6 linked regions of the Homo sapiens genome follow. The protein of the gene in region 3 purifies or fractionates together with the protein of the main gene of each other region. This does not show direct contact. Each region holds a gene or a part of one and is shown on either strand. Other genes may lie near its edges.

Evidence for each region.
Region 1: the proteins of PC (region 3) and IFT88 purify together in Homo sapiens (co-immunoprecipitation; one large-scale study listed by IntAct). This does not show direct contact.
Region 2: the proteins of PC (region 3) and MCCC2 purify together in Homo sapiens (affinity purification with mass spectrometry, with the first as the bait; one large-scale study listed by BioGRID). This does not show direct contact.
Region 4: the proteins of PC (region 3) and ELSPBP1 purify together in Homo sapiens (co-immunoprecipitation; one large-scale study listed by IntAct). This does not show direct contact.
Region 5: the proteins of PC (region 3) and FOXJ3 fractionate together in Homo sapiens (co-fractionation; one large-scale study listed by BioGRID). This does not show direct contact.
Region 6: the proteins of PC (region 3) and MDH1 purify together in Homo sapiens (co-immunoprecipitation; one study listed by IntAct). This does not show direct contact.

Annotation. Positions count from the first base shown.
Region 1 is NC_000013.11:20,601,657-20,605,156, reverse strand, and holds part of IFT88 (intraflagellar transport protein 88 homolog), read right to left. Parts: intron 3,453-3,500; coding exon 3,224-3,452; intron 123-3,223; coding exon 52-122; intron 1-51. UniProt on the Homo sapiens protein: Positively regulates primary cilium biogenesis. Also involved in autophagy since it is required for trafficking of ATG16L and the expansion of the autophagic compartment.
Region 2 is NC_000005.10:71,653,184-71,657,345, forward strand, and holds part of MCCC2 (methylcrotonoyl-CoA carboxylase beta chain, mitochondrial isoform 1 precursor), read left to right. Parts: intron 1-3,559; coding exon 3,560-3,677; 3' UTR 3,678-4,162. UniProt on the Homo sapiens protein: Carboxyltransferase subunit of the 3-methylcrotonyl-CoA carboxylase, an enzyme that catalyzes the conversion of 3-methylcrotonyl-CoA to 3-methylglutaconyl-CoA, a critical step for leucine and isovaleric acid catabolism.
Region 3 is NC_000011.10:66,874,067-66,879,498, forward strand, and holds part of PC (pyruvate carboxylase, mitochondrial precursor), read right to left. Parts: exon of another isoform or gene 4,244-5,432; intron 1-4,243. UniProt on the Homo sapiens protein: Pyruvate carboxylase catalyzes a 2-step reaction, involving the ATP-dependent carboxylation of the covalently attached biotin in the first step and the transfer of the carboxyl group to pyruvate in the second.
Region 4 is NC_000019.10:48,003,624-48,009,055, reverse strand, and holds part of ELSPBP1 (epididymal sperm-binding protein 1 precursor), read right to left. Parts: intron 1,975-5,432; exon of another isoform or gene 1,833-1,974; coding exon of another isoform or gene 1,715-1,832; intron 406-1,714; coding exon of another isoform or gene 389-405; coding exon 319-388; intron 1-318.
Region 5 is NC_000001.11:42,184,309-42,189,740, forward strand, and holds part of FOXJ3 (forkhead box protein J3), read right to left. Parts: intron 5,097-5,432; coding exon 4,995-5,096; intron 4,621-4,994; coding exon 4,429-4,620; intron 1-4,428.
Region 6 is NC_000002.12:63,597,048-63,602,479, reverse strand, and holds part of MDH1 (malate dehydrogenase, cytoplasmic), read right to left. Parts: intron 5,082-5,432; coding exon 4,906-5,081; intron 3,311-4,905; coding exon 3,188-3,310; intron 1-3,187. UniProt on the Homo sapiens protein: Catalyzes the reduction of aromatic alpha-keto acids in the presence of NADH. Plays essential roles in the malate-aspartate shuttle and the tricarboxylic acid cycle, important in mitochondrial NADH supply for oxidative phosphorylation.

The sequences.
Region 1 (3,500 bases), on a different chromosome or scaffold from region 3:
ATATTTTAAATAATGTAATTAATAACTACGTTATTAAGTTTAAAATATTACCTTTCACGTTCCATTTGCCTGAGGTGATCATTTTTTATAGCTTCAGTTACTAAGTTAGTATGAGGATCATCCTGGTAAAATAAAATGGAAGAAAAAAAGAATAATTCAGAAGTAAACAGCAAGAACTTAATTTTTGTTTTGTTTTGTTTTGAGATACAGCCTCACTCTATTGCCCAGGCTGCAGTGCAGTGGCATGATCATGGCTCACTGCAGCCTCCACCTCCCTGGGCTCAGGTGATCCTCCCACCTCAGCCTCCCAAGTAGCTGGGACTACAGGGGCATGCCATGATGCCTGGCTAATTTTTGTATTTTTTGTAGAGATGAGGTTTCACCATTTTGCCCAGGCTGGTCTTCAATTCCTTGGCTCAAGCAATTTGCTCACCTCAGCCTTTCAAAGTATTGGGACTATAGGCATAAGCCATCATGTCCAGCCACGAACTTGAATTTCCAATAAGCCTCCCTACTAATTAGTTTTAAAAAAGGGAGAGTAAATTAATCCTTCTATTTTCCCTTATGTAAATTAGAACTTTCTTTTTCATATTTCTGATTACCAATCACATTCTCCATTGAACTAACCTATTCTAAGAAGCTGATAAAAGGATCAGGATGGAAAGATTAGGACCAAGTACACAGAAGCTGGGGTTGTTAGTACAAATATGTAATACTTTAATTCTAAACTCAAATATAAATGCTTCAATCATCAATTACTTAGTATGATCCATATCTCTACTCCCCATTAAAAACACAGATGATTTTACAACATATATTATTTTTTCTCAATATGAAAATAATATATAATAATTAACATTTGCCCAGCACTTAACTATCTTTCACATACATTTTTTTTGTTTGGTTAGTTTTGTTTTGAGACAGAGTCTTGCTCTGTTGCCCAGACTGGAGCACTGTGGCATGATCATGGGTCACTGCAGTCTCAACTTCTGGGCTCAAGCCATCTTCCCACTCAGCTTCTCGAGTAGGTGGGACTACAGACATGTGCCACCATGCCTGGCTAATATATATTTTTTTTATTTGTTATTTTACTTTTGAGACAAGGTCTCACTCTGTCATCCAGGCTGGAGAGCAATGTTGTGATCACAACTCACTAAACCCTTGACCTCCCCGGGCTTAGATGATCCTCCCACCTCAGCCTCCAGAGTAGCTGGGACTACAGGTGCACACCACCAGGCTGGCTAATTTTTTATTTTTTTGAGACAAGGTCTTACTCTGTCACCCAAGCTAGTGTGCAGGGGTGTGATCACGGCTCACTGCAGCCTTGACCTCCTCGGGCTCAGGTGATCCTCCCACCTCAGCCTCCCAAGTAGCTGGGACTACAGGTGTGCAACATCAAGCCTGGCTAATTTTCGTATTTTTTTGTAGAGATGGAGTTTCGCCATGTTGCGCAGGCTGATCTTGAACTCTCAGGCTCAAGCAATCCTCCCACCTCGGCCTCCCAAAGTGCTGGGATTACAGGTGTGAGCCACTGTGCCCAGCTGCCAGGTACTATTTTAAGCATTTCACATGCATTAACTCATTTAATCCTCACCTATAATCCTCACCTTAACCCTGTAAGATAGGTTATAATAGTTAATCCCATTACATATATAAAAGAACTGAGACACAGGGAGAGTAAGAGCTGAGTAGGAGAGCCAAGGCATCTGGCTTCAGAGCCTATACTCTGCTATGCTACAGTACTCTTATAATCTTTTTTTTTTTTTTTTTGAGATGGAGTTTTGCTCTTGTCACCCAGGCTGGAGTGAATAGTGCGATCTCGGCTCCTGCAACCTCCACCTTCCGGGTTCAAGTGATTCTCCTGCCTCAGCCTCCCTAGTAACTGGGATTACAGGCACCCGCCACCATGCCCAGCTAATATAATCTGTTAAGAAAATCTATTAAAAGTTCAACTCTGTGAAATTGAAAATGTACCATTTTTATCTACAAATAGAGGCAATTTTCCTTAAACTAATATACAGTATGCCAATATTTTATTTGTAAAAATCTGGAAAATATTTCAAAAGCATTTACAATCTCATAGCTCAGAAACTACTGTTTTATATTGGTGTCAATTCTTCCAGTTTATGTTCATGTATAAGTGTGCATAGCTGTATGTTTTCACTTAACATTATATAATATTTCTCTAGGTGTTTGAAAATATGACTTTTGATAACTGCATTATGTTCCACTCTATGAGTAAGGATAAGGAATTTATTTCACTTTTTTTTTTTCAAGACAGAGTCTTGCTCTGTCACCCAGGATGGAGTGCAGTGGCACAATCTTGGCTCACTGCAACCTCCACCTCCCAAGTTCAAGCAATTCTCCTGCCTCAGCCTCCCAAGTAGCTGGGATTACAGGCGCCCACCACCATACCCAGCTAATTTTTGTATTTTCGGTAGAGACAGCATTTCGCCCTGTTGGTCAGGCTGGTCTCAAACTACTGACCTCGCAATCTGCCCACCTCAGCCTCCCAAAGTGCTGGAATTACAGGTGTGAGCCACTGCGCCCAGCCTTCGCTCTTGAGATATTTATACACAGTTGAGGTTCCCTCTGCTCCACAATGGCTCTTAATAGGTGAAATAAGGATTTGGAGGTTTCTTGGTCAAGATATTACCCTTGGCCAGGCTCATACCTGTAATCCCAGCACTTTGGAAAGTGGAGGCAGGTGGATCACATGAGGCCAGGAGTTCAAGACCAGCCTGGGCAACATGGCAAAACCCCTTCTCTACTAAAAATAAAAAACTTAGCCGGGCATGGTGGCGCATGCCTGTAATCCCAGCTACTCAGGAGGCTGAGGCATGAGAATTGCCAGAGCCTGGGAGGCAGAGATTGCAGTGAGCTGAGACTGCACCACTGCACTCCAGCCTGGAAGGCAGGCTCTCTGTCTCAAAAAAAAAAAAAAAAAAAAGATATTATGCTTAATGAATGACATGGAATCTTATTTTTAATGATTTTTTTACTAAAATTGTGCAGTCTGTTTTAACCATAATCTCTACCCCATTTCAATAGAGTCTCATTCTCAACCCAATTTAAATAAAAAATGAAATACATCAATAATAAAACACATTGATACAGGCCTGGGAAAAACCCAAGAAGTCATCTATTCTGGCTTTCTCATTCTGAAAACAGAAAAGCACAGATAAGTGGGAAGTGGCTACAGAAATGTCTTTTTCATACTCACACTTGGTGAAATATATTTATCTTCATCAATTTCTAATGGAACAGTAATCAATTTTTGGAATGCCTTCTTCATTTTTTCTCGGTCTCCAATAGCAAAATAACAGATAGTTAGGTTGTAGCCTGCCTTCAGATTTGGTGCCATGCTCATTATGTGCTCATATGAATTAATAGCATCTGAATACTGACCAGCCTGAATAAATGTAACTCCAATATTCTGCATTATTTTAATCCTAAAAGAAAAAGACATGGATTAGCTTTAAAATTCTGAACTCTTTAGT
Region 2 (4,162 bases), on a different chromosome or scaffold from region 3:
CACTTACTGGCATTTGTTGACAAGTATGCTTGTACGTTTGAAAGGTGATTAGTCACTGCCAGGGTCTGTGTGTCGGCGCCAAATAATTACCTCACAGACCATTGCCGCTGTTGGCTCGGTTTTTTTCTTACACCACTTAATGAGGTAATAAATTATCATGCCTGTCCCAGCTGAAGACCTGCTGGTGCCTGCTTTCACATCTTTCTTCAACAACTTTAGTGTTCTGCATTCCGAAGACTAATCTAAGCTTCATGTCTTCCTTTCATCCCTTGGGCAGATGGAAAAAAGAAAGTAACTCTTTCTGCATCTTGTAAAATTAGCTTATGTTGTAATTTATGCTGGCGAAGGCAAACTGGAGAGGAGAGGGGAGAGAAAAGAAAATCAGGCCAGGCACAGTGGCTCACACTTATAATCCCAGCATTTTGAGAGGCCAGGGCGGGCAGATTGCTTGAGCCCAGGAGTTCGAAACTAGCGGGGCAACATGGTGAGACCCAGTCTCTACAAAAAATATACAAAAATTAGCCAGGCGTGATGGTGTGCACCTGTAGTCCCAGCTACTCAGAAGGCTGAGGCAAGCAGATCAGTTGAACCTGGGAGGTCAAGGCTGCAGTGAGCCGAGATCATGCCACTGTGCTCCAACCTGGGTGACAGAACAAGGCCCTATCTCAAAAAAAAAAAAAAAAAGCAAAAGTTAGAGTCCATTACAATCATTTGAATGGTTCCTTGGTGGATACAAAGACAAAACATACTGATTTTCAAGAACATAATTAGTTTGAGGAGATAAATAATACCATTTGGGTGTGTGTATGTGTTTTTGTTTTTGTTTTCTTTAAAGACAGAGTCTCACTCTGTTGCCCAGTTTGGAGTGCAGTGACGTGATCTCAGCTCACTGCAATCTCTGCCTCCCGGACTCAAGCAATCCTCTTGCGTCGGCCTCCAAAGCTGGGACTACAGACATGTGCCACCACACCTGGCTAATTTTTTTGTATTTTTTGTAGAGATGGGGTTTCACCATGTTGGCCAGGCTGGTCTTGAATGCCTGAGCTCAAGTGATCCTGCCTCGGCCTCCCAAAGTGCTTGGATTACAGGCGTGAGCCACCTGTAATCGTGGCTGGCCAATATTTGGGAATTTTTAAAGGTTTTTTGCTGAATATATATTTTTACAAACAAATTTACAGGTATATTTTATTGTGGTGGTTTGATTCATTTAATTAAGAACAAAATATTTTATAGTCTTTGAGAGCTAAACATGTTCCTGATTTTATCATCGTGTAAACAGACATATAGTAGCCAGTAAATGGAAAGAAGCAATAGAAAGCCGTATAAGAGGTTTGAGATGAAATATAAAATATATATTGTTAAGCTTTTCTATAGTTTTTTTTTTCCACATAAGATTTTGACTGAAATACACAGGGACAGCTGAAATATTAAAGTTTGAAAAATTGTGTATTTTGTGTGAGCTGTTAGCTTGTTTTTCAGCCCTGGCTAAGATAAATCATCTCTTGAGAAAGATTGCATCTTTTATTATTTTCATACTAACATTATTATTATTTTTTAATGGATTACATTCAAGGCAGAAGAGTAAATGGCCCAGAGAGACTTATCTTTGGAAATAAATGTTAACAGACAGTAAAGTTTTCTGTGGATCTGTAGATTTTTTTTTTTTTTTTTTGAGACAGAGTTTCTTGTTGCCCAGGCTGGAGTGCAATGGCATGATCTCGGCTCACTGCAACTTCCGCCTCCTGGGTTCAAGGGATTCTCCTGCCTCAGCCTCCCGAGTAGCTGGGATTACAGGCGTGTGCCACCACGCCTGGCTAATTTTGTATTTTTAATAGAGATGGGGTTTCTCCATGTTGGTCAGGCTTGTCTCGAACTCCCAACCTCAGGTGATCCACCCGCCTCGGCTTCCCAAAGTACTGGGATTACAGGCATGAGCCACTGCACCTGGCCAGATCTGTAGATGTTTAACCCTTCTGTTGAAACAGCTGGTGGCATGGAGACAGCAGCTTTCTTTCAAAGCTGAAAGGATTTCCAAGCCAGTTTATGGTACCTTCCTTGGGTTTAGTAAATCTCAGCTTCACAGTAAAATTCCCTGGCCTGCTTAGGTTTGAACATGGCTAGATCTGTCTTTTCAGAGACAGAGCTTGTTATTATCAGTTACTGAAACCTACAATGTTTTCCTTAATCCTAATAGGTTACATATGTAGCGTGCCAATTTGCTTCTGCTCAGTTGTTTTTATAATCAAACTTTTATCCGGCATTTCATTAGTGCCTCTTACCTGGGGCAGTCTTTTTAATGAACATTATTAAGCAGCCCCTTCATCACCATGCTTGCTGTGCTGCAGGCTTCAGAGGGAGTGTAATCAATTCACCTGGTTGCAGATGACAAGAGTGGCTTTCTTTTTATTGGGTGTTGATACTTTAGGGTCCCTATTATGAATGTTTTATGAGCAAAGGTTTGATTCATGTCTGTCAATGTAAGAATGGTTTAATAGTTGATGCCAGGTTCAGATACCGAAGGGAGTTTATATAAAAAAAGCAAACTGCCACCTACTAATAACCTTTAAAAAGTAATATTTCTCAGTCATTTTTCGTTATACATTTGAGGTTGTCAATGAGAAGGAAACTAAAATTTCTACTTAAAAGTTTCTTCTGCAAGCAGTTTAAAGTTATTGTTTTTCCTATTGTAGCAAAAAATAAAGACCTACATTTGAAGGTATCTATTTTATTAATAAAATGTACTGAAGCTGGCCGGGTGTGGTGGCTCACGCCTGTAATCGCAGCACTTTGGGAGGCTGAGGTGGGCGGATCACCTGAGGTCAGGAGTTCAAAACTGGCCTGGCCAACATGGCGAAACCCCGTCTCTTCTACAAATACAAAAATTAGCCAAGTGTGGTAGCGCACTCCTGTAATACCAGCTGCTAGGGAGGCTGAGGCAGGAGAATTGCTTGAACCCAGAGGGCGGAGATTGCAGTGAACTGAGATCGTGCCACTGCACTGCACTCCAGCCTGGGTGACAGAGCGAGACTCCATCTCAAAAATAATAATAATAATAAATAAGATAAAATGTACTGAAGCCTATTCAATAATTTTCATAGTTTCTTAAGAGTTTGGATGGGGGTTGGGGAATATACATTTTCCAGTAAAGTTTGAGGTTATTACCTGGGTATATGTGGTTCTGCATATTAATGACAGAATACACCAACTTGGCTTATATATTTGTGTGGGAAGAAAAGGAATAGGAAAATTTTTCCTGAAATAAGTAAACGTATTGTCAAATTAGGGGTTACTTTGAGATCTCTTATAAAAGTAGTTCCTTAAGCCTTAAGCCTGACATGACATTCTGTGGTGGCCTGGGATGAAGGTCATATCATTTTTTTCCACGTTTTCCCCCTCTGTCTTGAACGTAGTTTCTGTTGTGAGATTATGGTACATGGATGCTAATCAGTAGATCCATATATTACCTGAAGGAAAACTTCCTTGGCATTTCTGCACATGGAGAGTGTATAAATGGTAGTTTGGTGGTAAATTCATAACTCTTTTTTTGTTCTTTTGTCAGGGTATGGGATGATGGGATCATTGATCCAGCAGACACCAGACTGGTCTTGGGTCTCAGTTTTAGTGCAGCCCTCAACGCACCAATAGAGAAGACTGACTTCGGTATCTTCAGGATGTAACTGGAATAAAGGATGTTTTCTGTTGGACATGTACTGAAAATTAACACATGTAGTAGCCTTAAAATTTTAGACTTCTCGAACATGAGGCTGTTACAGTAATTTTTTTAACACTGTGCATTGTACTTTTCTACCTTAAAAAAATCAGTGAGGATATTTATTTAATGAACATCAATTCCTTTTAAATTTTCTTAGAGAAATTTCTCTGTGGCTCAGTTTTACCACCCATAAAGCGGAGACAGTAATTTACGGTTATCCTTTCTGACCCACAAAGTATGAAAAGTTCTGTAATCTGTAAACTCAGTTCTGTAATCTGTATTATTGAGATGATTAATATAAAGTTGTATTTTCACTGAAATGATTGTTTTGCTGGTTATGCTTGGTGATATTTTAGCGGGCTTATTTTTGAAAGGCATCTGTTACTTCAGTGGCATAAAGTGCCCTCACACTGCTGTGCAGCCATCACCACCATTCATCTCCAGAATTTG
Region 3 (5,432 bases):
CTCCTGCCTCAGCCTCCCGAGTAGCTGGAATTACAGGCACCCGCCACCACGCCCAGCTAATTTTTGTATTTTTAGTAGAGACAGGGTTTCACCATCTTGGCCAGGCTGGCCTCGACCTCCTGACCTCAGGCGATCCACCTGCCTTGGCCTCCCAAAGTGCTGGGATTACAGGTGTGAACCACCACGCCTGGCTGTATTTTAAATAAAGATGGGGTTTCACCATGTTGGCCAGGCTGGTCTTGAACTCCTGACCTCAAGTGGTCTACCCGCCTCGGCCTCACAAAGTGCTAGCATTACAGGTGTGAGCCACCACACCCGGCCGATCTGATTCATTTCTTAGAAAACGTTTAAAACACTTGACTCAGCCATTTTGTTTTAAGTAAGGAACATAAAAACATACTCAAGAAATGAAACAAATATTGCAAAAACCTTAGTGCCATATTACAGCCAACAACCTAGAAAAGGGGAAATAAAGACAGAAGAAAAAGAAAAGAGAAGAAACAAGGAAATAAGTAGAAGAAAGAGAAGAGGAGGAGGAGGAAAGACCCACAGCCAGGGGAGAAAAACAGAAAACCCCACTAGGGGCAGACCTTATGCCAGGCACAGTTCTAAGCCTTAGGAGTCGAGAACACAACAGTGAAGGGTTCTGCTCATGGAAGATGAATGGCAGTGAAAGGAGCAAAGAAAAGAAAAACAAGACACAAATCAGAACATTTCAGATCACAAGTGCCTGGAAGATAAGAAACAGGTGACATTTTGCGAATGATCTGGGGCGGGTGCAGGGGTTTGGGGGCTGGATATTAGAAAAGGCCTCTCTGAGGAGGGGACACAGAAGCTGGGACCTGGATGGGGAGAAGTCGGCCACGCACAGATCCGCAGAGAAAGCTCCAGGAAGAAGGGATAGCAATTGTGAAGTTCTCAGGAAGAACAGGCTTGGTGCTGTCCTGAGAGAGGGAAGTGTGAGCCCACGGCCTGAGGTGGGGCTGCAGCCACAGACAGGGCCCAGTGGTTGAGGCCTCCCTTCAGCCATGGACAGGACAGGAGGGACATGATCGATGCACAGTGGAAAGGATCTCTCTGGACTGGCGAGCAGCAGGGGCTGACAGACGACGCATGTCTGGGGCAATTCAGAGGCTGAGCTGAGAGACGCGGAGCCTCTGACAGGGGGAAGCTATGGGGGTCGGGGTGGGGCTTAGGAAACATCTGGGCTATGACAGACAAGATTCGTCGAGAGACCCCCCATAGAAAGCAAGGTAGAGGAAGAAATCCTGTATGGGTGGGTGGAGATGACTTTTCCTGCTATAAGAAGGGCAAGACAGAAAAGGCAGGGCTGGGAGTGAGGCAAGCTCACAGAGGGGGAAGAGCAGGGACAAGAACCTGGGCAGCATCACAGGGGCGGTGGTGTCTGAAGCCAGGGAGAGAACAGCCTGGGAGAAGTGGGTCAGGCCTGCGTCTTCAGGCCCACTGGAGTTGAGTCTGGCCGAGGAGGAAGAGCCAAGAAGGAGCCCAGGGGGGATGCCTGGAGGAGGGAGGGACGCACGGGTCGCTGGGCAGAAGCGAGCGGCTCTCAGGAGGATGGGGCGCGAGTTGGGCAGAGCATGACTCCCAGAGGCAGGGTAAGATGGGGGCTGGGAAGGGGCCACTGCGGTGACCAGGAGGCACCCAGGTCACACCCGGCTATGGTGAACGTGGGTAGAGTAACCTTGCTGGACTCTGGGCTCCTCCTCTTTCTAAAATATACCTTGTCCTTATTCATTGCACAGTGGAGAAACCTGGCGGACACCACGCTGACCGAGAGATGAAGGTTAATATCACTAGCACCGAAGGGATACCACACACCTCCTGATGGGGTTCCCGCTGCCGTGCACGGCCTGAATTTAATCAGGAGAAAGCAAGGGGCAAACTCAAATTCAGGGAAATTCCACAGAATAACTGGCTTGGACTCTTCAAACATGTCAAAGGTCGTGAGAGACAAAGACGCAAGAACGGTTTCAGATGAAAGGAGACCAAAGCAACAATGGTGAGAGCCACACACGATCCTGGATTGGATCCGGGTTTCTATTGCTAAGAGGACATCAGGGGACAACGATACAATTTAAATAAGGTCTGCAGGTTTGAAAGAGGATTGCGTTGATATCAATTTCCTGATCTTGATCAGTGGACTGTGGTTATGTTAGAGAACAGCCTCATTCTTAGGGAAAAACACTGAGGAACTCAAGGGTCCACGAGCACCACATCTGCAATTTACACCCACTCACATGGTTCAGGGAAAAACGGGAACAATGAAGCAAATGCTAGTATTGGGGGAACTGGGGTCAGGGGTACGAGAATTCTTTGTCTTACTCTTGCAACTTTACTGAAAGTCTGAAATCATTTCAAATTGACAAGTGAAAAGAACCATACCCACCGCTAATGCCGCTGGAGGAGATAACCTTAGGGAGTGCATGCCCCAGCACCTGCTGCTCAAGAGGTGCCGGGAGCACCAGCGAGGAGCTCAGGTGTGGAGACACCCTGCTCAGAGCAGGATGAACGTCAGACGTTATCACCCTGCTATCTCCCACATGCAGATCTACAATCCTCTAAGCCCTGCTCCAGGCGAGTTATCGGATGCTGCCCACTAGGAGGACAGGTCTTTCCCAGCTGGGAGCAGGCGGCACTGGCATCAGAGAGCAGGTGTGGGGTGTAAATCTCACCCTCCTCCTGGGCACCAAATGTCTACTCTGCTGAGCGCTGGGAAAGGCCATGTCAAAAGAGCTCAAGTTACCACATAGGGCAAAGTCAGGAAGAGGCGAGGGGAGCCTTCGGGACAAGCACAGCAACAAGACAGCAAACACAAGTGGCTCTTGAACCCACGAGAAAGCAAGAGATTCAAAATACAACCATGAGGTGCCACTCCTGCCTGGGAGCTTTGTAAATGCAGTGCTGAGCGCCAGGAAGGCCTTCAGGAGGCGGCCCGCAGGCACTGCTGAGCATCACGGCAGCTTCTCCGGGAAGCTGTTTGCAAAACTTATCAAGAGCCTTTAAGGTATTTATGCCCGGCCAGGCGCGGTGGCTCACGCCTGTAATCCCAGCACTTTGGGACGCTGAGACAGGCGGATCATTTGAGGTCACGAATTCAAAACCACCCTGGCCAACATGGTGAATCCCCGTCTCTACTAAAAGTACAAAAATTAGCCCAGCATGATAGTGGGCGCCTATAGTCCCAGCTACTCGGGAGGCTGAGGCAGGAGAGTTGCTTGAGCCTGTGAGGCGGAAGTTGCAGTGAGCCGAGATCGCGCCATTGCATTCCAGCCTGGGTGATAGAGCGAGACTCCATCTCAAAAACAAAACAAAACAAAAAAAGCCGGGCACAGTGGCTGACGCCTGTAATCCCAACACTTTGGGAGGCCAGGGCGGGTGCATCACGAGGTCAGGAGATGGAGACCATCCTGGCTAACACGGTGAAACCCCATCTCTACTAAAAAATACAAAAAAATTAGCTAGGCATGGTGGCGGGTTATGCCCCTGAGCCCAGTCATTACTATTCCAGAAATCCAACCCCAGGAAATATTCCAAAATGGGAACCAAGATGTACGCAGAAAGATGTTCAAAGCAGCATTATTTACAACAGAAAATCATGAGAAGCAATTTAAAGATTCCACACCCTGGCTCCCACAGACATTATGTAACCATTAACAATAATGTGTTTGCACAGGTTTTGATGACATGGGAAATGCTTGTGATGTAATGTGAAGCCAAGAAAATTTAATGGTAAACAACATGATCTCATGAAGTTTTTTTAAAGGAATGGCAACAACTGTAGGACTGCTTGCATGCCACCCTCCTCACTCCCACGTGCTATGGAATTGCTGTAGAGTTGTGTTTTCCTCCTTCTTTATGCTTTTCTATATTTCCATATGGAAAATTTCCATATTTTCTCCATTGGGGATGCGTTATTTATAATTAGAAAAAAAAGAAGAAATATACAGAAGGGACAGGAAGAGCTCCGCAGGAAAAGGCGAAGGGAGCTCCTGCTACACCGACTCCTTGGGTGGGAGGACTTGGCTATGTGTCTCCCAGGAGCCTAGCACCCTCCCCCTCCTCACCTGCTGGCCTGCCTATAGGTGAGCAGCCTCACAGCTGGCAGCAGCCCACTGGCACCGAGATTCTCAAACCTCCAGGGCAGTTTCAAGCTTTTTCCAGGGAGCCCCAGTCCTTTCCTCCCACCTGGGTGGGTTTACCCTGCGACCACAGGGGCACTTACCCGTGGTTTGTGGGTAAACAGGTCATTTTTGTTGCTCTCCTCCCCTGTCCACACCACACTCACTCCCCACTGCCTTTTCCATGCAAAGAAAGAGATTTCCTCAGAAGATATGCCAAAGGCCGGTCACCTCCAGAGCCTCTGGAAGGCTGCACCCTGCCCCACAGCGTGGCCACCAAGTGTCTGCTTAGCTCAGGCAGGAAAATGATGGAGTGCTGACATGTTGCCGCCCCCTCGGCGGCCCCTCTCACATACATTCTTGCATTGGATCCTCATTTTTTCTTGGTGGGTAAAGGATTCCTTAGCAGTCCCACTCCACCAAGAGCCGGAGGCTGTGGGCAGCGGGGGGCACAGGAATGCCTCCGTGAGTCCTTGTGTCCCTCAGAGGGAAGCGAAAGCAGGCCTAGACTTGAGGCCAAGAGGACTGTCCCCGGGGCACGGGAGCTCTTTGGGTGGCAGCATGCCAGGCAGATGTTTATGGAAGGGAAAAGATCAGGGCTCTTCGGCTGAAGTCAGAGCAGGGAAAAGTGGAACAGAGAGTAGCCTCCTCTGGGGCACAGCCCAGCGCAGGCCCACAGTCCACTGGCCGGGGGCTGCCCCAGCTCCATGGTTTGGGCACCTCTGAGGCCCCAGCTTTCACATCTGTAAAACGGGGTTCCACCAGCCCACCCTAAGCAGGTCATCCTGGGGGTCGACTGAGACAGTACAGCTAAAGCGCCATGCCTGGGTGACAAACATCAGCTGCTGTCACTATCTTCCCAACTCCCTCCCCTCCCAGATGAACAGAGGGCCAGGGAGGAAGCCCCCGGCCCCACACAGCTGGAAGGCCCACACACTTGCGCCCTCCCACTCGCACCATGATGCAGCTCCATGCTGACCTCCCCACAGGCCAGGCCGTCCTGGGGTGAAGGCAGCACAGGCAGCCCACCCACCAAGCCAGGCTGACCATGCACCCAATGCTTAGCAGAGTTCACTGCATAGGGGAGCCAGCAGGTGTGATGCCCACATACACTTGGAGCAAACACACAGGCCCGAGGACACCACGTGCTTTTGCCAATGCAGAAACCTGTCCCCAACATTCCTCTGCAAAGGAAGACCCACCCCAAACAAAAGTAGTTGGGAGTGTCAGGTGTTGCAGAGAGGGGGGCACCTGTCCCAGAGCACTCACCCTGTACCGGCCTTCAGTGCACAG
Region 4 (5,432 bases), on a different chromosome or scaffold from region 3:
CAAGCGATTCTCCTGCCTCAGCCTCCCAAGTAGCTGGGATTACAGGCGCTCACCACCATGCCTGGCTAATTTTTGTATTTTTAGTAGAGATGGGGTTTCACCATGTTGGGCAGGCTGCTCTGGAACTCCTGACCTCAAGTGATCTGCCTGCCTCAGCCCTGCAAAGTGCTGGGATTACAGGTGTCAGCCACCGCGCCCAGCTTCTTCTGAGATTTTTGCTAAGCCATCTCCTGCCTACTTAGTTCCAGGAATCTTTGCTTTGCCCCATTCATTCTTCTCCAGCTTCTAAATCCTCCCTGTTGCTTTGAGTGTCCTTACCTCCACTTGACTCATAGGAATAGAGAAGGAAGGTTGTCCATCCCAACAGGTAACTGGACCATCGGGTCATCTTGGCTGCCCTCTTCTCTGTGGAAAAGAAGACAAAAATTTTCATCCCACACGTCCCCTTCCTCTTCCCATTACCTCCTAGATTTGACGTCATACATGCCATTTTTCTTTCCATCCACAGTAATTTAAAAAATAGACCAGGCATGGTAGCTCACACCTGTAATCCCAGCATTTTGGGAGACCAAGACAAAGGATCGCTTAAAGCCAGAAGTTCAAGACCAGCCTGGACAACATAGTGAGACCCCACCTCTACAAAATTTTCATTTAAATTAGCCAGGCATGGTGGTGTATGCCTGTGGTCCCAGCTATTCAGGAGGCTGAGGCAAGAGGATCACTTGAGCCCAGGAGGTCAAGGCTGCAGTGAGCTATGATTGTGCCACTGTACTATAGCCTCAGTAACAGAGTGAGACCCTATCTCTAAATACACACATACACACACATATACCACACACACACATATGTTTCTACATATGTGTGTGTGATATGTGTGTGTGTTTCTACATGTGTGTATGTACAGGTTTGTAGCCTGGAAGCACAGGCTGTATCATATAGCCCAGGTGTGTAGCAGGCACTACCATCTAGGTTCGTGTGAGTACACTCTATGATGCTCACACAAGGACGACATTGCCTAACAATGCACTTCTCAGACTGTATTCCTGATGCATAACTCTACTGTCATGTACTGTCCTTAGGAAAGTGTGATGGAAAGAAAAAAATGAAACACTTGTTGAACACTTACTGTACTCCAGGCTCGATGTTCAACACACTTTATGTCACTTGGCTTTCATAAATCAAGTAATACATGTTTTAACCCCCATTTTATAGATGCAGAAACTAACACTCAGACCTGGATTGGTCACCCAGGGAGGAAAGGGCAGGGTCTGGGTTCTAACCCATATTAATGGCTGCAAGGGCCCTTCTCATTGTTGGAACCTTAACAATAGCCTTAAATCCTCCCCATGAATCACACTCATCTCCTTAGCTGGAGACGAAAGTCCTTCAGTGATTAGCATTTACCGTCCTCATTAACCATAGTTATTACTAGCTCTATTTTCCTTCGTGCCGTTTCCTTGATGACAGATGACCATGCCATTCTCAGCAGCAACAAGAACCCACAGTTTGGAATTGGTGGTCTGGATTTGACTTGAGTCTCAGCTACTATCACCACTTCTACGGCTGGCTCCCAATTATTGACTGCTTACTGTATACCGGATGTCCTAAGCTTTGTATCCACAATCCAATTTGCTCCTGAAAATCTAAGGGCAGGCATGATCATCTCCACTTCACAGAAAAGGGAAACTGAGGCTTGGGAGGTTAAGTAACTTACCAAAGGACCACAGCTGGTACGTGATGTATCTCAGAGTCAGTGCGGGCCTGTCTATACTAGTGTCAGAGTTCTTAGGCAACGTAAACCCCTTCCCCTCTATGAGCCTTTGTTTCCTCATCTGCAGAATGTATTTAGTCGTTCCTGTGTCTCCGGGTGGCCACGAGGGTCCAATTAGACCTTGATGTGAAAATGCTTTTCACTTGTAGATCGTTAGTGGCATTTATGAATTATTAAAGCCAAGGTCAGGATAGCTCGGGAAGGCATCAGATGGAACCAACTTTTAGCAAGAAACCCAGATACCGCCAGGAATCAAAATCCCAAAGTTACTGATTTAAGTCCTCCCACAGGTAGGTGGCACCACTGAGTATCTGAGCCACACAACACGCCCCAAACTTTTTTCCTCTCCCAACAGTGCTTGGCTCTCCCGCTACACATCAAAGTGTCTTTCTCCCTTTTTCTTGTCGTTCTTCCTTGAAGCCTTTTACTCTTAACCCCAGCACCATGCCTCAAACAGGCTTTTTCTGAGTGATGTCTCATTCACTACTTGTGAAGGACTCTCATTCTCTTTGGCTAGTGGCTCAGTCAGGACTTAGACCTGACAATGCAGGATGAATGAGTCAGATTCAAATCCCAGCTCCACCGTTTACCAGCTGGGTGACTTCAGGGAAATTACTTAAATTTTCTTTTTCTTTTCTTTTTTTTTTTTTTTTTTTTTTTTTTGAGACAGGGTCTCACTCTGTCGCCCAGACGCCCAGACTGGAGTGCAGTGGCACCACCTCAGCTCACGGCAACCTCCATCTGCCAGGCTCAAGCGATTCTCCTGCCTCAGCCTCCCAAGTAGCTGGGATTACAGGCACGTGCCACCACGCCTGGCTAATTTCTGTATTTTTAGTAGAGACAGGGTTTCACCACGTTGGCCAGGCTGGTCTTGAACTCCTGACCTCAAATGATCCACCCGCCTCGGCCTCTTAAAGTGCTAGTGTTACAGGCGTGAGCCACTGGGCCCAACCTTAAATTTTCTAAGCCTCAGTTTCGTCGTGTCAAAACATGAGGATGCTAATCCTATCTACCACTCAGCCTTGTTATGATGATTAACGACAATCATAAAAATATGACAGATTTGGGAGGCCAAGATGGGAGGATTGCTTGAGGCCAGGAGTTTGAGATCAGCCTGGACAACATAGTGAGACCTCATCTCTACAAAAATAAAAAAAATAGCCTTGCATGGTGGTGCATGCCTGTAGTCCCAGCTACTCAGGAAGCTGAGGTGGGAGGATCACTGGAGCCCAGGAGGTCGAGGCTGCAGTGCACTATGATCGCACCACTGCACTCCAGCCTGGGCGACACAGCAAGGCTCTGTCTCAAAACACAAAACAAAACAAAAAACAGATAAAACTCATTGAGTGCTACACACTATTCTAAATTCACTGTAATCCTGATAGGAAGTAGCCCAACGTGGTAGGTACCATTACTACCCCAGATATGCACAGATGGGGCACAGTAAGCTTAAGCACCTTGCTGAGGGTTACAGATCATGCAAGTTGGAGAACTTGCAAGTGAACTCCAACAATCTGACTCAGTTCAGAGTAATTGAGCTCTTAACCAATGTACGATGCTGCCTCTAGGCTTAACATGGGACCGGACATGTGCTAAGAACTCATAAATATCATCCAAAATAGTATTGTTCATATAGTATTGTTTCACTTCTGAGAGCCAGAACTGTATTTTCAACTGCCTCCCAGACATGTCCACCTAGATGTCCTTCAAGCATCTCAAATTCCAAGCTTTGGCTGTTGAGATACAGCCCAAAATATGCTATCCTTCCCCCATGTTACTTCATTTAATTGCACTATGTTCTTCTCAACCACCTGAGTTGTAGCCCCCAGTGTAGATCTGCTGTCCCTGTCTCTTGCTGTGTTCTATCAGTCAGTTGGTTCTACTTTCTGGAGCTCCTGAATCTATCCGCTTTTCCTGCCTCTGCTGTTAAAGACTAAAGGAAGGCCTTTTTCATTTCTCTTCTCAACTATTCAACTGTTGTCCTGTTGCCTCACTGATATGCAGCCTCCAGCCTCTCTCCTCTACAAGGCTGAGCTCTTTTTCTCTTTTTGTTTTTTTCTTTTTTCTTTTCTTTTTTTTTTTGAGACAGGGTCTTGCTCTGTCACCCAGGCTGCAGTGCAGTGGCGCCATCATGGCTCACTACAGCCTCCATCTCCCATCAAGTGATCCTCCCACCTCAGCCTCCCAAGTGGCTGGGACTACAGGCACGCATCACCACACCCAGCTAATTTTTAAACTATTATTATTGTTTGTAGAGACGAGGTCTTGCTATGTTGCCCAGGCTGGTCTCAAACTCCTGAGCCCAAGCCATCCTCCTGCGTAGCCTCCTAAGCACTGGGATTACAGGCAAGAGCCACTGTGCCCAGTATGGGCCCTTTCCTGATGCATGCTTTATGCATCCACTCAGGAATGAGTATTTATTGAGCATTTAAAAGATGTGGGGCCAGGGCTACACGATGAGTATGCAGCAGTGGGTAAAGCAGGCATAGGCCCTGCCTTCGTGGGGCTGAGAGTCAACCAAGGAGACAGATATGAAGCGAAGAAACCAGAAACAAATACAACTCTTCGCTGTGATCATTGCTGTGGACGAGTCTCAGGAACAACTAGGACAAGGTCACTTTTGATTGAGAGGTGAGGGGAGGGTGCTCTGAGAAATGACAGGTAAGCTGACACCTGGAGGAACAGATGGAGGAGGGAGACGTGAGAGGAGCTGGAGGTATGGGGGTGGGGGATACATCCAGGCAGGAGAAGCCGACGTGGAAACTGCCTGAGATGGAAAAAGCTAGATGTGCTCAAGGAGCAAGTGGGACCCGCATGGCTAAGGCCCAGGCTGGGCACAGTGGCTCATGCCTATAATCCCAGTGTTTTGGGAGGCTGAGCAGGAGGATGGCTTAAGCTTAGGAGTTTGAGACCAGCCTGGGCCACACAGTGACACCTCGTCTCTACAACAAGTGAGGAGGAGCAAGGCCACAGAGATGCATGGTGAGATGGATGGGACCGGACCCTGTAGAGCCTCCCTCAGATTCTAAATGCAACCAGAAGGCCAGGTGTGGTGGCTCATGCCTGTAATCCCAGCACCTTGGGAGGCCGAGGCGGGCAGATCATCTGAGGTCAGGAGTTCATGACCAGCCTGGTCAACATGGTAAAACCTCATCTCTACTAAAAGTACAAAAATTCCCTCCACATGATGGTGCGTGCCTGTAATTCCAGCTACTCGGGAGGCTGAGCCAGGAAAATCGCTTGAACCCAGGAGGCAGAGGTTGCTGTGAGCCGAGATCATACCACTGCACTCCAGCCTGGGCAACAGAGGAAGACTGTCTCAAAAGAATAGAATAGAATAGAATAGAATAGAATAGAATAGAATAGAATAGAATAGAATAGAATAGAATAGAATAGAAGCAACCAGAAGCCACGGGAGGGGTTAAAGTGAGGAGGAGTGGGCCGGACACGGTAGCTCATGCCTATAATTCCAGCACTTTGGGAGGATGAGGTGGGCAGATCGTCTGAGGTCAGGTGTTCGAGACCAGCCTGGCCAACATGGTGAAACTCCATCTCTACTAAAAATACAAAAAAAAAAAAAATTAGCTGGGCGTGGTAGCAGGTGCCTGTAGTCCCAGCTACTCAGGAGGCTGAGGAAGGAGAATCACTTGAACCCAGGAGG
Region 5 (5,432 bases), on a different chromosome or scaffold from region 3:
CTTCTCTTTTATGGCTTCGTAATTCTTACCTTAAAGGCAGAGGGGAGAAAGAATTACAGGATTATGACAATAAACAAACATCTACATAAAAGTCTTAACTTTCTGTAATTCCATCATATGCGTAACACTTTTATTTTCATATAGAAATTCCCATTAATTCTCATTTTTTCCCATATTCTCAATATAGAGTCTGAATGAGTGTATTCCTGAATTTCCTATGTAAGAAATTAACTTCCAATGCAGTTTCCAAAGATTTCAGGCACTGCTCGAGGCACTATGGATACAGCAATGAAAAAACACAACTCTGCTTTTCGGGTGTGTATTCTTGGGCATGTTGGGTAGGGGCAAACAAAGTAAATTAAATAGTATGTAACATGCTATGGAAAAAAAGCAGAGAGAGAGAACAAGGACTGCTGAGTAGTGGTGCCATTTAAATAGGATGACCAAGGAAGGCATCCCCTGAGCAGGTGTTTTTTGAGGAAAAACAACGGAACAAGATGAGGAAATGAGTCATGTGTCTAACTGAGGGAAGACCACTCTGGACAAGAGGAAATAGCAAGTACAAAGGCCCTGTTTAGGTAGAGTGTGCTACCTAGTGTGTTCAAAGAACACCAGGGAGACCAGCAGTGTTGAAGCACAGGCGTGGAGGGGAGAAGGCAGAAGACAAGATCAGAAATAATCAGTGATCAGATTGTGTAGGCCATATAGGCCATAGTAACAACATTGGTCTTTACTGAGAAAGATGGAGGGTTTTGAGCAGAAAACAGACGTGACATGATCTGACCTCTCTGTCTTGCAAAATCCTACTTAACCTACAAAGTCCAGCTTAAATATGCTGTCTTCTAGAAAAATTTTCCATCTTTCCAAGAGAAGTATGCACCCCTTTCTCTGAATTCTTATTGCACTTAAACCCTATGGAGAAGTGTAGCCCTCAACATACTGAATTTTTTTTTTTTTTTTTTTTTTTGAGATGGAGTCTCGCTCTGTCGCCCAGGCTGGAGTGTGGTGGCGCGATCTTGGCTCACTGCAAGCTCTGCCTCCCTGGTTCATGCCATTCTCCTGCCTCAGCCTCCTGAGTAGCCGGGACTACAGGCGCCTGCCACCACGCCTGGCTAATTTTTTTGTATTTTTTTAGTAGAGACGGGGTTTCACCATGTTAACCAAGGTGGTCTCGATCTCCTGACCTCATGATCCGCCTGCCTCGGTCTCCCAAAGTGAACATACTGTATTTCTTGATGGATCTGTCTCAACCACTAGGTTGTGAACTCTTTTAGGTAAAAGCTACTACAGGGGTCATGTCTTTATTCTCAGTGCCCAATACAAAGCTAGACACAGAAAAGGTGTCTAGTGTGTGCTCAATGACTGCATTCCTACCTATATTTAATGATGACCTTTAAGCAACGCATCAAATTAGAATAGTAGAGCCAGAAGATATAAACAAATTATAACCACAGGTAAAAAGATTTAGGAAAAGATGTCATAGACTGTGTTCTATAACAACCTTCTCCCCTTCCCCCTTCCACACTAGCACACTACACCACTAATTTCTGGAGTCTACAGGAAGCTCATGGAGGTGTTTACCAAGCGGGTCCTTGAAGACAGGAATGACAGGAAAGGTTTAAGGAAATGGAGAGACTATATTCTGGGACTCAAGACCTACACCTAAATGAATTTTACAACATTGGGTAAGTCACTTTCTCCCCCTGGATTACAATGTCCTTATCTGTTAAATAAAGGGATAAAATTAACAGCTCTCTGAAAGTCTCCTCTTGACTATACTTCTAAGAAATTATGACAAAGAATTACTGGGGTGCAGAGATGAGGGAAGTAAAAGATCTGAATGGATGTGATACACAGGGATGTAAGACAGAGAAAAAAGGAATGACAGAAAGACACTGACACTTAAAACAAGAGGAAGCAGGCTGGACACGTAAAAAAAATCTGAATATTTGTGAACAGACATCAGCAGGCATGAAGTGATGAATACTTGGAGCACCATAATTGATGAGAGAACAACTGTTGTCAGAGGCCAAAACAGCTTGGCAGGCATGAGTCAGAAGGAAAATACAAAAGGGGAGTGAGAGTAGAAAGAATTGAATAAACACTGAAGAAAAACTATAGTTTTTCTACCTTTGATAGGCTGTGACTAGGGTAGCACTGAGAATCACGAAGGTGTCATCGGGACCCTAGAAAGGAGGAGGGCCCTAACAAAAGAGATGACAGAAAAAATTAACAGAATCACAGAACACCAGAACAAATAACCAAGGTCAAGGCTCAAGAATAGATGACTACAGAAGTTGAGGAACAAAGGGCTTCAGGAAAATAACTCAGGATCTCAGTCTAGAGAGAATCTAGAAGGAGTGCCTGGGTACTCTGACAGAGGACAGCAGCAGATAAAGTGTTTTTTCCATGACAAAACTACCAAGTTCCAAGACCAAAAGGTACACATAGACCTTTCTTACAGACTTAGGGCACAAAACTGAAATTCACCAACATGAGAGCTGCTGCCTAACATGTACACTGGCTTTTGAGATTGCCTTCTTCTTCTTCTTCTTTTGAGACGAAGTCTCCCTCTGTCACCCAGGCTGGAGTGCACTGGTGTGATCTCGGCTCACTACAACCTCCGCCTCCCAGGTTCCAGCGATTCCCCTGCCTCAACCTCCCGGGTGGCTGGGATTACAGGCATGTGCCACCAGGTCCGGCTAATTTTTGTATTTTTAGTAGAGACGGGGTTTCGCCATGTTGGCCAGGCTGGTCTCGAACTCTTGACTTCAGGTGATCAGCCCGCCTCGGCCTCCCAAAGTGCTGGGATTGCAGGCATGAGCCACCATGCCTGGCCGAGACTGCCTTCTTCTAACACTGACCCACATCATCTTCTACTTCTCCTGCCTACGGCAACAATCTATGAGCAACACAGGTACTTACCCCCAAACACACAAGACTAGTGATATATACATAAGCTATTTAATTTCACTTAGTACTTTTTGAGGCTGACTGAAATGGTTAGAGATGGAGTTAGCAAAGAAGTGAACAGCATGACAGCACTCAGAAGCAACAATTTTGGATGAACACAGAAAGAAAAGAGGAAAGGAGAAAAAAGGGACAAAAAACAGAGAGAGGTGGTACACCTGGTCTAAGGAGGACTTAAAGCAAGTTGGAAAAATTAAAGTGATATATCCTGAAAGGGACAAAGTATGGGCTTAGAACCCATGAGAGAAACAAAGAAGACACGCTGTCCATCTGCAAGAAAAGATTTTAAAAAAAGAAATGGAAGAAGGGCACATAAGTGAGGATACCTGAATTACAGAGATCTTGATGCTTAAAAATGAATATATATCAGAAAGATACCAAAAAGAACTAACAAAAGGAGAGAGAGAGAGAGACAAAGAAGCTATAAAGTTATCAAAAACTAAATTTTAGTGTCTGGCACAGAGGGCAATCAGCCAGGGACTGAACAAGGCCCTTGTGTGGATGTAATTTACTGAATGAATAGGTCACCAGAATCAAATAGTGACTGAAGGTTTCAGGCAAGGTAAGCTATTCAAAATAGCTTAGGAAAAGCTATTCAACGTGGAAGAAGAAAAGATAATAGATTTCCACTACATCAAAGGATACAGGAATAAAGATTTCATGAAAAGAAAGACACAGACTGATAAGCTTGACTTGAATAAACTCAAACCATGGGTGAACGAAAGATGTGAAGTAAGATAGAATAATGGTTAAAGGAAGCCACTCAGGATAGAGAAGAGAGAGCTTGTTGGCATAAAATGTAAAATCAATATAACATACAGAAAAGAAGTAAACTTGATGATAAGAGAAGGTAAGGAATTAAAATGAAGAAAGAAGTAACTTGGATATGAAATTCCTACAGAAAAATGTGCAATCAGAGTAGAAGACATGGCTGCAAGGGTAAAGAATGAAGGAAGAAAGCGAGATTTAAAAAATATACAGGAAAGATTTTGGGTCTAAAGTAAAACATCAGTGAGACTATTTTCCATTACGTCTACTCTTCAAACACTTCGAATTGTTCAATTTTAACATTCTTAGGAGATACACAAGACACGTTGATTTCCATTGCAGATCTGTACAAATTTAAATATAATTTCATAATTATGTTCCTATAAAAACGTAAGTATCTCCAATATATTTCTTGTTTGATAACTTAGTAAAAGGATAATGGTTACAACAGTTAACTGTAAATAATAAAGCAATCATATAAATCACAACAGAAAAACATAGTCTCATTACCTCAATTTTTCTAAGATATACCCTACATATAAATTATTTGCTTTCATTCATTTCTTATAAATAAAAATTTGTAAACAGATCACTGTCACCATTAGCAGCAAACCAAGTTGGTTAAGACAGTTACTAAATTTCGTACGAATGAGAAAATGAGAAAAATCAAGAAGATAACTAACCCCATACCTGTTCCAATGTGTTGGGAAGGTTTTGTTGGATGCATGGCACCATGACAAACATTTTGTTGAACATTACTCTGTGAATGTATAAGGCCAGTTTGTGTAAAGAACTGATTAAGAGAAGAACAAAGATCGGCAAACTGAACCTGGTCTAAAGACCAGTTCTTGAGATCTGCCTGTCTCATACTCTCCATCAGACCTATGAGGAAAGCATTAAAAATATGTTAGCACTGTTATGCAATAAACATTGCAAGGAAAATAGCAAGACATAATTTTTTTCAGCTCTCAAAATTTCCACTCACTCCACTTTATGGTAGTGATTTATCCACGCAATGAAGAATGACCTTTTTAAATTATTCAAAGCCCAATTATTTTAAATGTGGTCAAATTTCTTTCAGAACTTGTCTGTGACCCTCTGCTATACCAAGTGGCCAAAATTATTATGAATTTTACCAACTGCAAAAGAAATGCTATATAAGATGATGTTTATTTCTACTACAAAGAAAGTTATAATCTAGCAGAGAAACAGGATCATGTGTATTTGGTTATATGTCAAAAAGAACCAACACTCACCTTGAAACTGTGAAAGGTCTACATCTGACCAATTAACACTGCTGGCAATTCGACAGCTTTCTTTTAGCATATCAAGTGTCGCATACCAATCATTTGAAACACCTATAAAATATTGACAACAGTGTAATTCCTGGATGGTGAAAGGGTGAAGTGTGGTAAGGGAAAACGATGAGCTGCCCTTATTCCTGAAATTGGCTGATTCTTGTCCCGTCTTACAAGGGGATTTGTACCCATTATATCACGTGTTGGGCAATCTGCTCTGTGAGACAGGCAGAAAGGTATTATTTCTCTCCATTTTACAAATAAAAGAAACTGAACCAGAGAAGTGACATAACTTAGCAAGGTTATCATGATGAATCTAAGACTTGAACCCAGGTCTTCTAACCTCCAGTCTAGCAGTTTCCAAATTGCCACATCACCTAGTAATATCAAACTTGA
Region 6 (5,432 bases), on a different chromosome or scaffold from region 3:
ATAATACTCTGTAGTTATGTAAGGTACCATCAATGGGTGATGGGTACATGGGCCTTCTCTGTACTATTTTTTTGCGACTTTTGAGTCTAAAATTATTTCAAAATAAAAAGCAAAAAAAAAAAAAAAAAAAAACCCCAACCAACCAACCGAAAAGGATAAAGATGAAAAAAAAGGCCATTACCTAAAATGTCTGCAATGACTCGACTGGTCTTCATACTAATTTATTCAGTTAAGTAAGAAGTAAACTGTCTTTACTTTCACTCCCACTCTTAAACTAGTTGAGACTGCTTTCTTAAATCCTAAAATAGTTAAAAGTTTACTTAAAAATTTATGTTTGTGATATTGTAAATCACTTTTGACCGATCTAATCCCTGCAAGTCTTGCAAGTATTAGGACTATTATCTACAATATTTGCATTAGTCTCCACAAATTAGTTCACAGTTGGGTTTCTGGGGTACCCAGCTATTGATCTGCTTAGCCTGTGGGATAGGGTAGAGTGGCACGCTGTTCAATGAGTACCATTTTTTACGTCTGCCATGACCAGAAAGAACTGGGGAAGAAACTGCTCTTATATTTATACTTAAATTTAGCTGGTATGGTATATAGAAAAAGATAAATTTATACCTTGAACAATTAACTCAAGATATATATTACCAGGAAGTTAGAGCCTATAACTTCCCTGAATGTCTGCTTCAATGCTCCCAAGTACAGTGAAGACAAAATGCCTCTAGGCCTCTCCACCCTCAGTCCTCCTTGGCTCCCATGCCTTCCTTTGTTCTTGTTGCCCTCCTCCTCTTGCTCCTTCTATCTCTTGAGCTAATCCAGTTCTGTCTGGACAGCAAAGGCCAGGTACTTTGCATCCAGCAGATATAGTTTCTTAATATGATTCATGTCACAATTAGTCTAAATTAATACATACCCAGGATAACAGCTCTTTGCTCCCTTAGACACTCATGTCTGTCACATAGGTCTGTTAAAAGTTTTTGATTAATTCTCCAGCCCTAGTAATTTTCTTACAAGCTAACTGGTATCATTGTCAAATTACCTTATCTGGTATCAATGTCAAATTACCTTATCAGCAGACATAAATACAGCACTGGTTTGCAAATACACAGGCAAGTTCTGCAGGTGTTAAACAGTCCCTAAGTCGCTAAGGCCTCTGAATTCCAAGACAAAAATATCTAGCAACCAGTCCTGTAAGAAAAACTTATCTTTGGGTTTGTTATTTTTCTCACTGGATAAACAACTTCTTCTAGAGGAAGAAAGTGCTTCTTCAATGACTCCCTAAAAGCTCTCACTATGCCAGATTGACATGCTGAAACAATGCCTAGCCAAGGTCCCAGGAGTAACAAAGAACATGTCCCCAAGTGAAGGTTAAAGTCTGAGGAGATAGCACTTTCTTTCCTCTTTGCTCATTCAGACTTGAGCCCTGCAGTGAGAACTGTTTCAGGCACCAGGACAAAGTATCTCTTTGAAGTACCTTTGGAAGCAGAATTTTCCAATGCCTGTCTCCACCAAAGCCTCAGGTGAAACAACAAAAAGTGGTTGTTAGTGTCATTGTTGTAGGAACTTTCTTGTTGTAGGAACTAAATAAGTCACTTTCTGGCAATCCAGAGTTTGCAACTGTAACATGTATAATATCTCTTCCTTTACAACTGTCCCACAGAACTCAAACTGCCTGCCATTCAAACAAACTCCTATTCGTTCTCAGCTACCACCAGACCCAGCTCACAGCCTATAGCCTCTCAGGGAATATTTGCACTTTAAGCTAAAAATTTAAGGGTTGTTATCCAACAACCCTCTAAATTAGGAATGTTTAGGCTGTATGCTTCTTAGAAAGAAGAAATCAACTAATAATAGCAGCCAACCTTTCTTGTATTTACTATGTGCAGGCACCATGCTAAGGGCTTAAAACAGATCTTATTTAATCCTCATAAGAACTCTCTGAGGTAGATACAATTATTACATTTTAAACATTGAATATACTTTCTCAAAATCACAGAGCTAGTAAGTGGACTAAGGTTAGTTGATACCATTAGGTAAGAACATACATAAGGGTTTGGAGTCAGGCAAATCAAGGTGGCTCCGTAATTTATGAGCTGTATGACTCTGAGCAGGTTCTCTGACTTCCCTGGGCCTCAGTTTTCTTACCTAATGCAGGGATAATATGAGATACCCATATGGTTACTATAAAAATTAAATGGAAAATTACATGTATAGCATTCAATTTACAGTAGATGCTTAACAAATGTATATTCTTTTCTCTTTCACTAGGCATTCCAGAGCTGAAGGATTATTAATTCTCAGGTTAGGGCAGTAGTGCTTCAGCTTAGACCTCACAGCATCTTCTGGTTAACAACAATTTTTTTTTGAAACTAAAGTTATCTTCTCTAGAAGAAAAAGCACTGAACTCATAGACCTATCTAGCAGTGATGACCTACAGACAAGAAGGGATGGCCAGAAAAGCATTAGGGCAAAGGAAAGAGGTTCTGTCCAAGAACGGGCACCAGGACCAGTTAGATCTGAAAAAGCCTAGGAAACTAGCTCAGATCAGTTGCCTGGCTTCTAATTTTTTGAAAAGCTATTGTTAATTCCCTGGTCACTGGCTCCTTGGCATACTTATCTATGGCTCTAAGAGTAAAGAAAATTAGCAACAGACTTTAGCTCCTAAGTAGTGAAAGGAGGAAATTTTACAGATACACATAGAATATTAAAAAGACATAAAATGAAAATTAAATATAAAATTAAAAATTAAAATCTGAATTTGATGGCTTAGCTGCAGCTAAAATAGAAGCAGAACCACACAATCACACAAAGCTCAAGTCTTTGTTTATATGAGATTATATGTATCTGAAAAAATTAAACTAAATTATGTACCATCATGTATAACTAATTTTTAACCACTGTAACAAGAGAACATTAGTAACTGCATTTCATTATAGTTAGCAATTGAAATATAGTTAAAGACGAAATCAAGTAGGAAGTCCAGCCTCTGGTCCTTTAAGAGAATACATTTAAAGACTCCCTAACAAATGAATAATAATTTACTTTTAATTTAATAAAAGTAATAGGTTCCTACTAAACAAAAACAAGAAAAAAGCACAAACTCAGATTCAGTTATTTTAAAAGTGAGAGAAAAATGTTTTAAAGTTGAACAACCACAAGATTTAAAATATATTTTTCTTACTTGAGCTTTAGCTCGGTTGTGATCCAAACGAGTCAAGCAACTGAAGTTCTCCTTGGGGATGGATGGAGCTGACTTGGAAGCAGTCAGGCAGTTGGTATTGGCTGGATTACCCACAACAATAACCTAGGAGGAATGGAAGGCACTGAAGAGTTACAGACTATATAGTTACTAACTAATCTATGTTAAAATTTGACTGAAAATGTCTAACAGGTAGCCTTTGTACAGGGGAGGCTTGGGAAACACCAAATACAATATAGCATAGGAAAATGCATTTTAAGTTATAAAAATCTTTTATAAAATGGTAATAAAAAATTTTGAAATAATATCAGATTTATAGAAAAGTTACAACCATATTACAGAGACTGACTCCCATATATCTTTTTTTTTTTTTTTTTTGGTACCTCTTTTGACAAGCTGTAGACAAGATACTTCATTGTCTCTAAGTAGTGCAGTGCTGGCAAATATTTCTCACGAACAAGGACGCTTTGAAGAAGTGGAATTACTGTGCAAGGAGTACTTTACCTCCAAATAGCCTGCAATTTAGCAGTCTGAACAATCTTCTAATCTTTTACTGGCACCTGTGGATTTCTATTAAACTCATTTATACTATTTTCTGTGATGACAGAAAATAAGTTAACTATTTAAAATGAAGTGCACAGAAAGCAAAAAATGCAGATATCTATGAAATGTTATTGATAGAACATTATAATGGGCAACTTAAAAAATCTTAAAAAATTTTCTTTCACCTTTTTTTGAAAGATAGGAAAGTATATGGAAATCAGTTAAACCTTTAACCGGCAAGCCTATTTGCTGGGTGACAATTAAGTTCTAGTTAATTGATAGTTCACTAATAAAAGAAGGTTTGGCTGGGCGTGGTGGCTCACACCTGTAATCCCAGCACTTTGGGAGGCCAAGACAGGTGGATCACCTGAGGTCAGGAGTTCGAGACCAGCCTGGCCAACATGGTGAAATCCCGTCTCTACTAAAAATACAAAAATTAGCTGGGTGTGGTGGCGTGCAACGGTAGTCCCATCTACTCACGAGGCTGAGACAGGAGAATCGCTTGAACCCGGGAGGCAGAGGTTGCAGTGAGCCAAGATTGCACCACTGCACTCCAGCCTGGGTGACAGAGCAAGACTCCGTCTCAAAAAAATTAAAAAAATTAATAAAAAATAAAAAAGGCTTACTGTAATATTAAGACATATTAGAATCTAAAGTAAATAGTTTGAACACAAAGAGAGAACTATAAGTCATACTGACTCAATTCTTCAAGAGACAAGCATATTAAAATTCCTCTGCATTAAGAAAATCTGAGCATTCAGAAACCACTATCTTCTATTCCTGAGAATAAACTTACCTTACAGCTAGCTATCTCCTTTCACAATCACACACAAATTTAAATGTCTAAATAAATATTCCCACGCAGCAAAAATGCACCAGAAGATCCTGTGCCTTCTCTATATGTTTAAGAACTAATACTAAATTTTCACGTTATACTAATAGGAAAAATATTTTTGAGCACTCTGAATATAGATTTCTATACTGTAAGAAAAAACCCAGAAAGGGAGAGCTTATCAAGCAAAACTCTAGAGCCGTATTTACTGATGATTGTACAGAACTAGAAAAAAGGGCAAATAATTTTGGTTTTGCTTAAATGCTAAAAGCATAAGTTTCAAATGCTAATAATGAAAAATCCCATAAAATACAGCATTGGTCACCTTAACTGACTTCTTGGCGTATTTATCTAAGGCTGCACCCTGGGATTTGAAGATTTTCACATTTGCTTTCAGTAAATCTTTTCTCTCCATGCCTTCCCTTCTTGGCATGGAGCCCACAAGAATGGCCACATCCAGGTCTTTGAAGGCAACGTCTTCTTTATCTGTTGCGATGACATCTGTGGACATGGCAATAAATACGCAGAGCTACTTAAACATCAAAGTTTGAAGTTTTCTTTTTCATATTGAATCTACCCATTAATTCTTTCACTTGTTGCAAGTGTTTACATATCACACTGATATACATTTCAGGAGCCTGAGAAAGATAATATATTAATTTAACAATCATAACATTAGAAATGTCAATAGATTTATTTTGCTTTTCCTGTTTCAATAATTACTTAAATGTCAAAACTCCATAGCTTTTATCTTTTATAATCATATATGATGCAAGGTATAATGATGACTTTTGAAGTGACACTTGTTATTCACACTAATTACCACACAACACAAAAGAGCAACTAATTCAC